3 separate regions of the Homo sapiens genome follow, and all the other regions are linked to region 2. The links come from fine-mapping of genetic effects on gene expression. A gene starts in region 2. Each other region holds a variant in brackets. All regions are shown on one strand. Distances are from middle to middle.

Evidence for each region.
Region 1: its variant is fine-mapped to the expression of ACAD9 in whole blood (TOPMed, PIP above 0.99). The same link has a PIP of 0.9 or more in blood mononuclear cells.
Region 3: its variant is fine-mapped to the expression of ACAD9 in whole blood (TOPMed, PIP above 0.99). The same link has a PIP of 0.9 or more in spleen, stomach and tibial artery.

The regions. Positions count from the first base shown.
Region 1 is chr3:128,900,896-128,905,132 of GRCh38, reverse strand. It overlaps ACAD9 (acyl-CoA dehydrogenase family member 9), which reads right to left. Exons shown (of 18, transcript NM_014049.5): 8 at 3,784-3,857; 9 at 2,505-2,580; 10 at 1,001-1,071; 11 at 628-747. Among named protein-coding and RNA genes, the nearest start is that of ACAD9, 23 kb to the right of the region's middle. RefSeq lists an enhancer at 1,840-3,039. The variant T/C (reference allele first, on the strand shown) is at 2,613.
Region 2 is chr3:128,877,914-128,881,913 of GRCh38, reverse strand. It overlaps ACAD9 (acyl-CoA dehydrogenase family member 9), which reads right to left and starts at 2,294. Exons shown (of 18, transcript NM_014049.5): 1 at 2,073-2,294. The coding sequence starts at 2,222. ACAD9-DT (ACAD9 divergent transcript) reads left to right here and starts at 2,478. Exons shown (of 3, transcript NR_186174.1): 1 at 2,478-2,778. RefSeq lists enhancers at 868-1,719, 2,028-2,107, 1,720-2,572, 2,168-2,717, 2,573-3,424.
Region 3 is chr3:128,850,980-128,855,216 of GRCh38, reverse strand. It overlaps the pseudogene MARK2P6. Among named protein-coding and RNA genes, the nearest start is that of MIR12124, 6.3 kb to the right of the region's middle. The variant C/T (reference allele first, on the strand shown) is at 1,922.

The sequences.
Region 1 (4,237 bases), 23 kb before region 2:
CTTGTTGCCTAGGCTGGTGTGCAATGGCACAACCTCGGCTCACTGCAACCTCCGCCCCCACCGGGTTCAAGTGATTCTCTTGCCTCAGCTTCCCAAGTAGCTGGGGTTACAGGTGCCCGCCACTATGCCCGGCTAATTTTTTGTGTTTTTAGTAGAGATGGGGTTTTACCATGTTGGCCAGGCTGGTCTCGAACTCCAGACCTCAGGTGATCCATCCACCTCGGCCCCCCAAAGTGCTGGGATTACAGGTGTGAGCCACCGCGCCCTGCCATATGCTTAGTTTTTAAGATAAAGTTTTGATACCAGAAAGTAGGAAGGCCATAAACTAAGGAAAAAAGAAGTCTTTCTCACACAAGCCAGATGCAATGTTATTACTCTAAAAGGATATTATCATAACGGTCTCCTTCTGCTATAAACTACTGATCCACTGGCCCACTGGACACTTCCCTACTGCTGCTCCCCGCTGCCTGCCTATCCCTGGAGTGCTACACAGGGCAAGTGCATCATAAATACTGGATCAATGACAGGAGGAAGATGACAGGCAACAGCATGGGCTTGAAAGGTCACAGTGAGGGAGATTTCCCAAGCCTCCCTCCAGCGCCAGCTCTCTGGCTATGCCAGGGTTACCTTCACCATGGCTGCCTCGATGGAGCAGTCGGGAAAGCCAGGTTGGTCCAGCATCCCTGCTGTGAGGTAGGTCATACTCTCCATGACGTAAGCCTTCTGAGCCATCAGTGCAAATTTCTCCTGGAGTGTTCAGAAAAAACACAAGAAACAATTTGCATGTGCTGAGAGCCAAATCTGTGAAACAGGAGAGAAAGTAATTAAGTCAGAAGCCTCAATGCCCAAGAGAAGCAAGCCCAGTGACCCGTGTCAAATAAAGCCTTAACTAGTCTTCTTCCCAAATCACCACAGAAGTCACCAGTACAGAGACATCAAAAGAACACACCGTTCATGTCACACAGTGAAATGCACAAATACAGTACTCAACCATTGGTACCTGAATCAATCCAAATTCACTGAGCCTCTTGTTAAACTGTTTCCTTGTGCAGGCGTACTCAGCAGTCATTTCTGAGGAAGAGCAGAGTTATTAGAATGAACTGGAATATTTCTGTGGTTCAAACATGATTTCCTATGGCCATCATCCTTACCCTTCCCACAGGTGGGCACTGTGAGAAGCGTGTCTGCTGAGGTCAAATACCCCAGAAGCTGGCACCCCCACTTGCCAGCACCCGTGGGTCAGAGGAGAACCACCCCTCCTCATGGCACCCACACACAGAGTTTGGCATCAGATACAGACTTGAATCCTGGCAATGGTTCTTACAGGCTGTGCCTCAGGCCGAGTGCGACACCTCCCTGAACACCACCCCCACCTCAGAGTCGCTGTGAAGATGCAACCAGGTGGAAGGGGGAGGGCGCCTCGCACAAAGCCAGGCACAGAGGCCCCAGACAGAGGTGGTGCAGGCTCACACCCCGTGCAGTGACCAAAGCAGGTGGGGCCGCCTGGCTTGAATACTCAGGCTGGGGCTTCCAGGCGTGTGGCTGTGACAAAGTGCTGAGCTCTAAGGGCCCAAGAGTGACATGGCGCCTCTCCCAGGCAGAAGCACCCCCGCCCCGCCATAGCCATGTCCTCCACAGGCTCTCCCAGGTGTGGTGCACTCAGGAGGTGTAGAGGGCCGAGCCCCACTCAGAGCCCCAGCAGAGGAGCTCCCCAGAGGCCTTGTGCCTGAGTAAGAAGAGCCCTGAGCCTGGAGCCTGACAGCTTTCATTTTGGGTCCAGGAGCACAGTCTGGAACAAATCGCTTGCCCTCTCTGAGTCTCTGTCTTCTCATCTCTAAAATGGAGGGAAGCCAAAACAGGCCCAGAGCCTGGCACCAAAGAGGAGCTTCATAAAGCACTTAGGGGTGTGCTGCCCCGGGTACCCCCATTTCCCCGCAAATGCTTCCACCACAACCAGGATGGTTACAGGGCTGTTCTAAGTTCACTGGCAAAGGAAAATGGAGGTTTGGGGTATTCTGACAGAATAGAACAAAGGTAAGATCCAGGGGCCCAGGGACCTGGGTTCCAAACCCGATCCTACTCCCCACCCACCATGCAGAGTCACCCAGGAGGCACGGACCTTGGGAACCAGAGGCCGTGTATCCTGGAAGCCTGGTTCTTGGTGTGTGCTCACCAAGCAGCTCTGCTCCTACTGGTCAGTGGCAACCTCTCACTCCAGACAGACAGCCCATTCCCCAATCCCCATCCCCACCCCAGACAGAAAGCCTGTCCCCCAGTCAGCATCACCCGGGTGGAGGTGAAACAGAGGAATGCGGAAGACAACAAACCTCAGGGGCAGGCTGAGGAGACCCTCTGGTCTCCACAAAAGCCCAGGGACTGAGCTCAGGCTGGTAGCCTGGTTCAGCACTGGCCTGGAAGGGGCCGGGGGAATGGCAGAGCCTCCAGGGTTGGAGCCGGGGCAGCAGGGGGTGGGGCACAAAGGGCCTTGTCCCTAACTTACCTACCAATCAATCTCTTGAGCAGCCCAGCCACGACGCTGCCCATGCTGAACCGGCCGCTGTTGAGGATGTTCATGGCCACCTGCAGGGAGAACAGGGAGAGCCCAGGGGCCC[T/C]GAAGGAGGCAGAGGGAGGAGGCCGCAACGAAACCAGGCCAGGTGGATCAGCTTGCCTTCCCTCAAGCTGGGAGAAAGCACCATCCTAATGCCTCAGAACAAGGTGGTTCAGTCACTGTTGCAGCTCTACCAACATCCCCACACACAAGACCACTGAACGTTATTCCAAAGGACCATGCCAGAGCTGGGCATGGTGGCTCCCACCTGTAGTACCAGCATTTTGGAAGGCCAAGGCAAGAGGATCGCTTGAGCCCAGGAGTTCAAGACCAACTTGGGCCAAACAGAAATTCTACTTTTAGGCATAAATCAAAATACCTGAAAACGTTATTTCCACATTAAAACTTGACATGAATGTTCATAAGTAGCATTACTGATAGCAGCCAAAAGCGGTAACAACCCCAATGTCCATCAGCTGGTGAATGGATGAACAAAATGTGGTATCTCCACTCAACAGAAGAGAATTCAGCCATAAAAGGAATGAATTACTCATTCATGCTATGAGAGAGATGAACCTTGAAAACATCACGCAATGTGAGAGAAGCCTGTCACCAAAGACTGGATCTTGTATATGACTGCATTTTTATGAAATGTTCCAAACAGGCAAATCCATAGGGACATAAAGTAAAAGAGTAGCAGCCAAGGGATGGGGTAAGGGTCATACTGGATGGTACAACATTTCTTTTTGGGGTGAGGAAATGTTCTGTGTGAGATATTTGAACAACATAGTGAATATACTAAAAACCACTGAAATAATATTTTAAAATGGTGAGTCCTTTGTCATATGAATCATCTCTTGATAAAAATAAGTCTTAGTCCAAAAAGAAAAGAGTAGGGCAGCGATGCAGACCAGGGTTGTGGTACACAGAGCTTGAGATTCACCAGAGCCCACAGGCTGCTTTCTCATACCCACTGCAGAAGGGAATCTTAGCCTCCGCTCGAGGCGAATAGGGCCTCAGAGGTGAAGGGAAATTCCTAATCCTTACCATACACTTCTTCTAGGAGCCAGCCAATTTTCCAGTGTCCATTTTGCCAATTTCCCAACAGATAACCATGCAAAGTCACCTGCCATGCACAGGCTACTCTGCTACGAGCAGGGATAGGGCAAAAGCTGGGGGCGACAAACTGCACTCATGACACTACCTGGTACAAGGGGCTGTGGCTGGCAACTCACCTTAAACCCATCTCCGACCTCTCCAAGGATGTTTTCCACAGGTATCTTGGTGTTTTCAAAATGGACTTCACAAGCTGAAACACATGAAATTTAAGATATCATCTGACAATGCAAACCACTCTGCATCTGACCTGCAAGCAGGCAATTCATCCATCCATCCATCCATCCATCCATCCAATGTTTGGTAGGACAGTATAGAAAGACAAAGTTCCTATCTTTGTGGAGGCTCATACTTTGATTTGGGAGACAAAAGCTATAAACAAAACAATGTAATATTGTGATCAGTGCTATGGATGAAATAAATAGGGCATCACGATAAAGAGAAATGGAGGTTGGCAAGGGGGTGGATAATAATATTTTTATTAAGGACTATGTCAGACTTTTCTAAGGTGACATTTAGCAGAAGTTTAAGAATGAAAAGAACCAGGCATATAAAGAGCCAGAACAAGCAAAG
Region 2 (4,000 bases):
TGGCTGTAGATGAAACGAGACCCAGCCTTAGTAAATTCCAACTTGGCTAGTTGGAAACACTGGTCACTGTTTAGCGGTCAAGGAGCTGAATAAGAACCAGCAATGGACACAGAGAAGTATCAGCCAGTGAAGTATTTAGAACATTCAGAGAATGGCGAGAACAGTGATTCAGAAACCAGAGACGAAAGTGCGTCAACAGGGTGGAAGGATGAACGGTGTCAGATGCCAATGATGGGTCAAGTAGGATGAGGTCTGAGAACAGATCACACAATTTGATAACAGAGAGGTCATTACTGACTTCTATGGCCATTAGGGACAAATGCCTGAATGGTAAGGGCTCAAGATCCAGTAGAGAGAACAGTTAATGATGCAGAGAAAGGAAAGAATTACCCTTGAGTAGGTGAGAAGACCTGGAGTCTAATGAGAGGTTGGTTTTGCCAGGAGCAGACAGTTCACAGTAACAGAATGTAGATAATACCGGCACATATGCAGCGGGAGGGGGTAACTGTGCCTGTGAACTTCTCATCCGACTGCATGGATTTTCCCAGTGGAATGGGAAGCAAAGCTGACAGCTGAGAGTAAAGGCAGGGCAGGGCAGGTAGTGCCAGAGGTTTAAAGATGGAAACAGATCTGAAAGATCTGTGTTCTTTCTTCACCATGCTGCTGGATAGCAGGAAGTCCCAGGATAGAGCACCACACTGCCCCAGGTCCTGGGTAAAAGGTTTTCCAATATGTTCAAGACATAGCTCCGCACTTTCTAGCTGGGCAAACTGCTTTTAGTCTGAGTCTTAGCTTCTTCATCTGTAAAGTTGCTTGCTATAAAGGTATCAGCCTGACAACCTCAGAGGAACGTTCCAAAGAGAAGCCAGGGAATAACTTCTGTGATACAGGATCAGCCAACATTCAGCCAAGTTCAAAGTAGGGCACCTCGACGAAATAGCAAGTATACTGTTGGTTTCCTTAGAAGATAAAATGAAATACAAAGGAAAGAGCAAGAAATGTGTTTATTCCTATTTTGTAGATGAATGCACTGAGGCACAGGGAGGTGCAGCCGTCAGCTCCAAGGTCACAAGACTAAGTGTTGAAGCCAGCTCTCTCTTCTGCTGCACAGTACTCTACAGTTTAAGAAGACTCTCCATGCACCGTTTATCTCACTGGGGCTCTACAACACATCTGTGAAGGAGACACAACACTATCTCCATTTTAAGGCTGAAAGAACTGAGTCTTGGCCGGGCGCGGTGGCTCACCCCTGTAATCCCAGCACTGTGGGAGGCCGAGGTGGGCGGATCACCCGAGGTCAGTTCTAGACCAGCTTGGCCAACATGGTGAAACCCCGTCTCTGCTAAAAATACAAAAAAAAAAAAAGCCGGGCAGGCGCCTGTAATCCCAGCTACTCCGGAGGCTGAGGCAGGAGAATCGCTTGAACCCAGGAGGGAGGTTGCAGTGAGCACTCCAGCCTGGGCGACAAGAGCGCGACTCTGTCTCAAAAAAAACAACTGAGTTTCAAAGTCAACGAGCCAAGACCAAACCCAAGTCTTCCAACTCTAAGAAGACAATGAGTGTTTTATAACCAAACTGTTACTATTGGCTGGGTTGTGCCACCCTTGGGAAGCATCTTGGAGCCAGATTTCTGAGGAACCTCAATGGCAGGGAGAGGCGCTGGGCTCACCTGGGGAAGGAAGCCCCAGGGCGCTGGAAGGTGACTGAGGAGGGACATGGTGTAAGCTGTTTAGGAATCAGAGAGGAAGCCCCGCACATTTCCAGACCAGACCAGCTGAGATGAAGGCTGCTTTGTTAATTACCTAGCCTAGAGTTTTCCGAATTCCCCTGACAAAATTTAGCTGGAACACGTCACCACCACATTTCCAAGGGTCCCCCGTCTTGGAAATGTCTCACCCTTTCTCTGGGAAGGTTTTCCTGGAACTCAGGAATCCGGAGTGTTAACACGCCTCGGCCGCAGGGTGTATCTCTCTGGCAGGTTTGGGGAATCTCACAAAGTTCAACACCAGTCTTGCAGCTGAGGGTGAAAAGCGGGAGCCAGACAGCAAGGGTTCGCCCAGGGCTCGCGTTACCTTCTTGATTTTGCCTAGGAAAAGCTCTTTGGCGAAAGCTCGTACAGGCGGGCTGGTGCGCAGTAGCCGCCGGTTCGCGGTAGAGACCACCAGACCCCGGCAGGCACGAGCCGCAGCCGTGGTGCGCAGGAAGAGCCCGCAGCCGCTCATGCTGCCCGATGTTCCCCAGCCTCAGCCTCAGTCTCCCCTTCTTAGCGCCGCAGGGACACACACACGTCTGATGACGTTACTGGCCCGCGACAACGTGCAGTACTCACTGCGCTTGCGCGGTCCCCCGCAGCAGGGGATGGAGAGGCCAGAAGGGCGGGAAGGCTACCACCTGCCGCGCCCAAGGCCTTAGTCACGTGCACCTGGCTGGCCCGCGCCGCCTGATGACGTCACACGCCTACGCTTCCCGCCGGCCCCACTGCGCTTGCGCGGCCAAAGGAGCTGGCCGGAGGAAATTGTAGGCCCTGGGCCGCGGGCATCTCGGCGGGTATAATCTCTGGCCGTCGTGACGGCGGTGACGGACCTGTTTTTCACATACCAGCGGTTGTTTCCATAAATGCCAGCCATGGGAAATCTCCCTGTGTACAGAAACCTAAAGGCCGGCTCAGCTGCCTCCACTTGTCTCTTTTGTCACTTGTGGCCACGAGGCCGTGGTAAAACTTGAGAAAAGCAAAAGAATGAGGGAAATGCGCTGTATTGGGGTCTCTGCAGGGGCACGGTAAGGGTAAGGGTCCATTTTTAACTGGATGGTGGATTCCTGAGATACTGTTTTGTTCCTAGTTGACATGTATGTTACATATATTTTTTGGAAAAGGAAAAGAAAGTGGGTGTTCAGTCACAGAGCGGTCTGGATACAACTGAGTCACCTCTGTCCTGGGAAACACTAACTTAAAAGGCAGGCGGAGGAAGAGAAACTACAGAGAGAGCTGAGAAGAGATGGGAACTATTGGATGGGATGGGACAGGCCAGGCTGTAACCGCCCAAGGTTACAGCCCGCTGACTAGACAGCTGATTTATCAAGACGGAAATTGCAATAGAGAGAGAGTAATTCACGCAGAGCCGGGTGTGTTGGAAAGGGAGTTTTATTAGCCAAATCGGTCTCCCCAAAAACGGATCGGAATTTTTAAGGATAATTTGGCGAGTAGAAGCTCGGGAAGTGGGAGGTGCATGATTGGTCGGGTTGGAGATGGACTGATAGGGGGCCGAAGTGAGTTTTTCTTGCTGTCTTCTGTTCCTGAATGGGATTGCAGAACTAGTTGAGCCAGATTACCAGTCTGGGTGTTGGTAGGTTTTACAACAGTGATGTTATTCCCAGGAACAATTTGGGGGACGTTCAGACTCTTGCAACCAAAGGCTGTATGGCCTCTAAACTGTAATTTCTAATCTTATAGCTAATTTGTTAGTCCTCCAAAGGCCAACTGGTCCCAGGCAAGAAGAGGTTGTTTTTTGTTGTTGTTGTTGTTGTTTTCCCGGGAAAGGGCTATTTTTGTTTTGAAGTTAAACTATAAACTCATTCCTTCCCAAGGTTAGTTCAGCCTACGCTCAGGAATGAACAAGGACAGCTTGGAGGTTAGAAGCAAGATGGAGTTGGTTAGGTCAGATCTCTTTCATTGTCTCGGTTATAATTTTGCAGTGGCGGTTTCAAGGCCAGGCCATAGGGGCCCACGTAGGAGGCAGGGCATGCCTGGCACCTCACAGCCCAACAGTGCTCTGAACGTGGCACATGGGCCCTCTACAGATCTTCAGCCAGCTCCTCCAGGAAGAATGCCACTCTGCTTTTTCACCCAGACCGGTAATCTGGCTCAACAAGTTTTGCAATCCCACCTAGGAACAGAAGACAGCAAGAAAAACTCACTTCAACCCCCTATCATTCCATCTCCAACCCAACCAGTCAGCACTCCCCACTTCCCGAGCTCCTACTCGCCAAATTATCCTTAAAA
Region 3 (4,237 bases), 27 kb after region 2:
CCAATCAGCCATAGAGGTTCTTGTAACCAGGTAAACCACCACCCAACTAATGGCATTAATCAAATATCAACCTTTGCCAAATAAAGGACTAACTCCTCATGGAGAATTAAATTCTGATGATAATGCTTTCTATTAAACTTTATTTATAAACAGCATCAAAGGGGAGAATTAAGCAGGAAATATAAGAAAAACAAGTAAAGGGAAAACAAGTCCAGTTGGAGCTATGATAACATTATCTGCAAGGCCAGGCAGGGGCCCCAAAGAAATGGATTCCAAGAATAGGGATGAGAAAAACAAGTTCTTATCCGTCTCCCCCTGGAATTCTCTCCCAATGCCATTATTCTTTGTTCTGCGCTTGTAACTATTTTTGTAACTATTTCTGCAAGTTTGCAAGGATTTTATAAGTTCCTGTTTTCCCATCTGTGCAGGATGGCAAAGGTCACAAGACATGCCTGAATTGCAAAACCTGTCACAGTTAACTGCCTTTGTTCTGCTTCTGTAAGCTTGCTTTCCCCACCCTGCAAGTTTTGTGCCACTGGCTAGCCACTCCCCTTCAGTTGCCTGAATAAAAGTTAAGCCTGGCCTTTGTTCATTTATCAGCCTCTGAATATTAACCCACTAGGCCGGTGGCCACCTAAATAAAATCCTCCTGTTTCACCCATTGGTCTCTCCAGTCTCCTGATTCCCGCAACAGTCAGTCCAAGGCTCAGTTTCCCCATCTGCACAAAAGGGCCCCCTCCAGCTCTGATTCCGAGGATCCAGCCTCAGTCTGTGTCTGTGAACAGTGCTGGGTGATGATCCTGTTGACCCCTCATGTGCCTGTGACAAGGAAGGTACCACAGGGACCTAGAGATGCCCATTGAACTAAGAGGACACTCAGGCCAGAGAGGAGTGGCTGCCAGAGGCTGAGCAGTGGGGCAGTGGTTCCAGCTGGGACTGGTCCCGATCTCTTATCTCCAAGTTCTCACCACTGTGCCCATATTCTTGGAAGGAGGAAGTAAGGAAGAGGTGGACTGGGCAGCCTCAGGTGGATCTGAGTCTAGCTGCACCTCAGGCAGCTGAGGGTCCCCAGGCCTCAGTTTCCCATCTCTCCCCAGCAAGGCTGTGAAGCCAGGAGCCCCTGGTGGCTGTCACACAGGTGGGCAGAGGCCCCTCCTCCAAGGTTGCTGCTGTGTCTCTTCCCTGGCCTGGAGTCTGTGTGCCCATGGCAGAGGCCACCACTGGGCAGGGTGATTACCCCGGGCCTCCCTGATACTCACCCCTGCAGATCTGGAACATCAGCCTGGAATGGAGACCTTGTCACGGCCCTCCCTGCTTGCCACCCACAGCAGCTGAACACGCCATTCAGCCGTTCAGAGGTGGAGGCAGAGCCTGCACCTGGGCTCCCGAGGGCTGGGGCTCGGGTGCCCCAAGATGGCTGCCCAAGGGCCCCGACCCCACACCTTGAAGCTCCTCACAGCTCCTCCCCAGCCCACAGAGGGGAAGTCAGAGGGCAATGGCTCAGAAAGTCCCCCACACTCAGGCTCATGTGGGAACACTGAAAAGAGGAGCTCAGGGGGACCCCATCATTGTGGGAGACGCTGAGGCCCCATAAAGCCTCATGCAGAGGAGAGGGCCTGGCTGCAGCCCCACTGTCTGCCTGCCTTCCGGAGCACCAAAACCTCCCCAGGATTTCCTTTCACTTTGAAGGCAAGTGTCTCCCAGGTATGAATACTGAATCTCCCCAACTTAATGCCAATTTGCAACCTGAGAGGGGGATCTTGTGGGCCTTGCTTGAGCTCCCCAAGGGCCCCTCAGAGTCTGTGCCCCCGCCCCGGTGCCACTCCCCTCTGGAAGTGCCGGCCCTGTGAGAAGGCACCTTCTCCAGGTCTGGCTTCCACCATTGAGGAGGCCCTTAAAAATGCCACAGTTCGGCCGGGCG[C/T]GGTGGCTCATGCCTGTAATCCCAGCACTTTGGGAGGCCGAGGCGGGCGGATCACGAGGTCAGGAGATCGAGACCATCCTGGCTAACATGGTGAAACCCCGTCTCTACTAAAAATACAAAAAATTAGCTGGACGAGGTGGCAGGCGCCTGTAGTCCCAGCTGCGCGGGAGGCTGAGGCAGGAGAATGGCGTGAACCCCCGGGGGCAGAGCCTACAGTGAGCCGAGATCGAGCCACTGCACTCCAGCCTGGGCGACAGCGAGACTCCGTCTCAAAAAAAAAAAAAAAAAATGCCACAGTCCTCAAGACCATTGGCCCAGGGAAGCCTGGGTGAGGTGAAGTTGACCCAGCACGAACTCACTGGGACTCAGGTGGCTGTAAAAATAAAATCTATAACTAGGGGCTCCCCCAGCCTTCTGAGTCTACACAGAAAGGTAGACGTCATGAAGGCCCTGAGTGTCCCATCATAATAAAGCCATATCATGTCATTGAAACCTCAGACATCCCATACTGAGCTATGGTGATACTCATAGTGAAGACCTTTTCCACCAAACACTCCAGCCTGGCCACATGGAGAAGGAGGAGGCTCAAGCCATGTTTCTGCAAATACTATCTGCCCTGTAGTACTGCCACCAAAGTCAGCCGCCAGGACCTGGGTGGCAGGACTCCTGCATGAAGAGCACAACATGAAAAGAGCTGACTTTGGCTTCAGCACCACATATTCCCAAGGCCAGAAGCTGAGCGCCTTTGGTGGGACTCCCCTTAAGCTGCCCCAGAACTCTTCCTGGGCCACGAGTATCACAGCCCTGCAGTGGTCGTGTGGGTCTTGGCTCTCCCGTCTACCACATGGGGCCAGGGCCCTGCCATTTGGCAGGCAGAACTTCTCAGCCTCAAAAAAACATACTCAAGGAAAATATGTACTGTCTATATTCCTTCCGAATTGAAATATTTATCAAGAAATTTCTGATCCTTGACCCCAGAGAATGACCCACAGAGGACCAGCTGATGCGGGACCCCTGGGTCAATGCTGGCCAGGGAACCCTTGGGCCACACATAGAGCTGCTCCCCAGTCACCTGGGCCCCCTAACAACCTGACTCTTGGTAGCCGTGACATTCTAGGCACATCAAGGAATCCCCAGTAGGAAAAAATATATATATAATTATTCCATGGCCACCTACCTAATCCTGGGGATCCCACTGACCTTCCCCATCCCCCAAAGTTAAGTCCAACTTTTCTGTCCAACCAAAGGGGAGTCAAGGGCTGGAATGTTTGGTGAAAAAGGTCTTGACTGTGGCCTTTCCCACCCTTACTTCAGAAATCCAGCAACCCAAGGAGGACCAGGGCCAGGGCAGAAGATGCCCAGAGAAGCCACCTTGCCTGCTTGTCCCCTTCTGGGCCTGGAGGTGATGTGACCCAATACCAGCACATCTCCGAGTGTGGCCCTGTGGCCTCCCCCTCCATCCAGAGCACCAGCAGCAGTGGGAGCGGCCCAGGAGTCAACTGCCCCCAGGGAACATCCCAGGACGTCAGTTCTGTCCATGTGGGAGACCCAGGAGGAGTCACCTGTCCCCAGGGAACAGCCCGGGAAGCCAGCACCCTCTCCACTGGGCATCAGATGGTGTGACCTCAGCCTCTCCCTGTGAAGAGAGCCAGGGCTGCCAGGGAGCCACTAGATTTGTCTTCAAAAACATTTTGCTTCCTCCTGGCCCCAAAGACCCACTGTGCATGGAGAAATACAGTGGCTCCAGTAAACCCAGGGGACAGCTGCGGCCCAGACACAAACCAAGCGGAGGGTGGGGGGCAAGCTGCCTTTTCTGCACTTTATTTTATTTATTATGCTTTTGTTGGTTTCTTTTTTTGTTTTTAGAAAATGTCTCTGAGTCATATGTTCATTATTATTATCATTATTATTTTGAGATGGAGTCTCACTCTCTCGCCTAGGCTGGAGTGCAGTGGCGCAATCTCTGCTCACTGCAAGCTCTGCCTCCCGGGTTCACGCCATTCTCCTGCCTCAGCCTCCCAAGTAGCTGGGACTACAGGCACCTGCCACCACGCCCGGCTAATTTTTTGTATTTTCAGTAGAGACGAGGTTTCATCATATTAGCCAGGATGGTCTCAATCTCCTGACCTGGTGATCCGCCCGCCTCGGCCTCCCAAAGTGCTGGGATTACAGGCGTGAGCAATGGCACCTAGCCGTTTATTATTTTTTAATTATTATTTTTAATTGGAAAATTATGCTTGTATTCATTTATGGGATATAATGTGAGGATTAGATAGATGTGTGCACCATGGAATGATCAAATCTTAGCATCTCCAT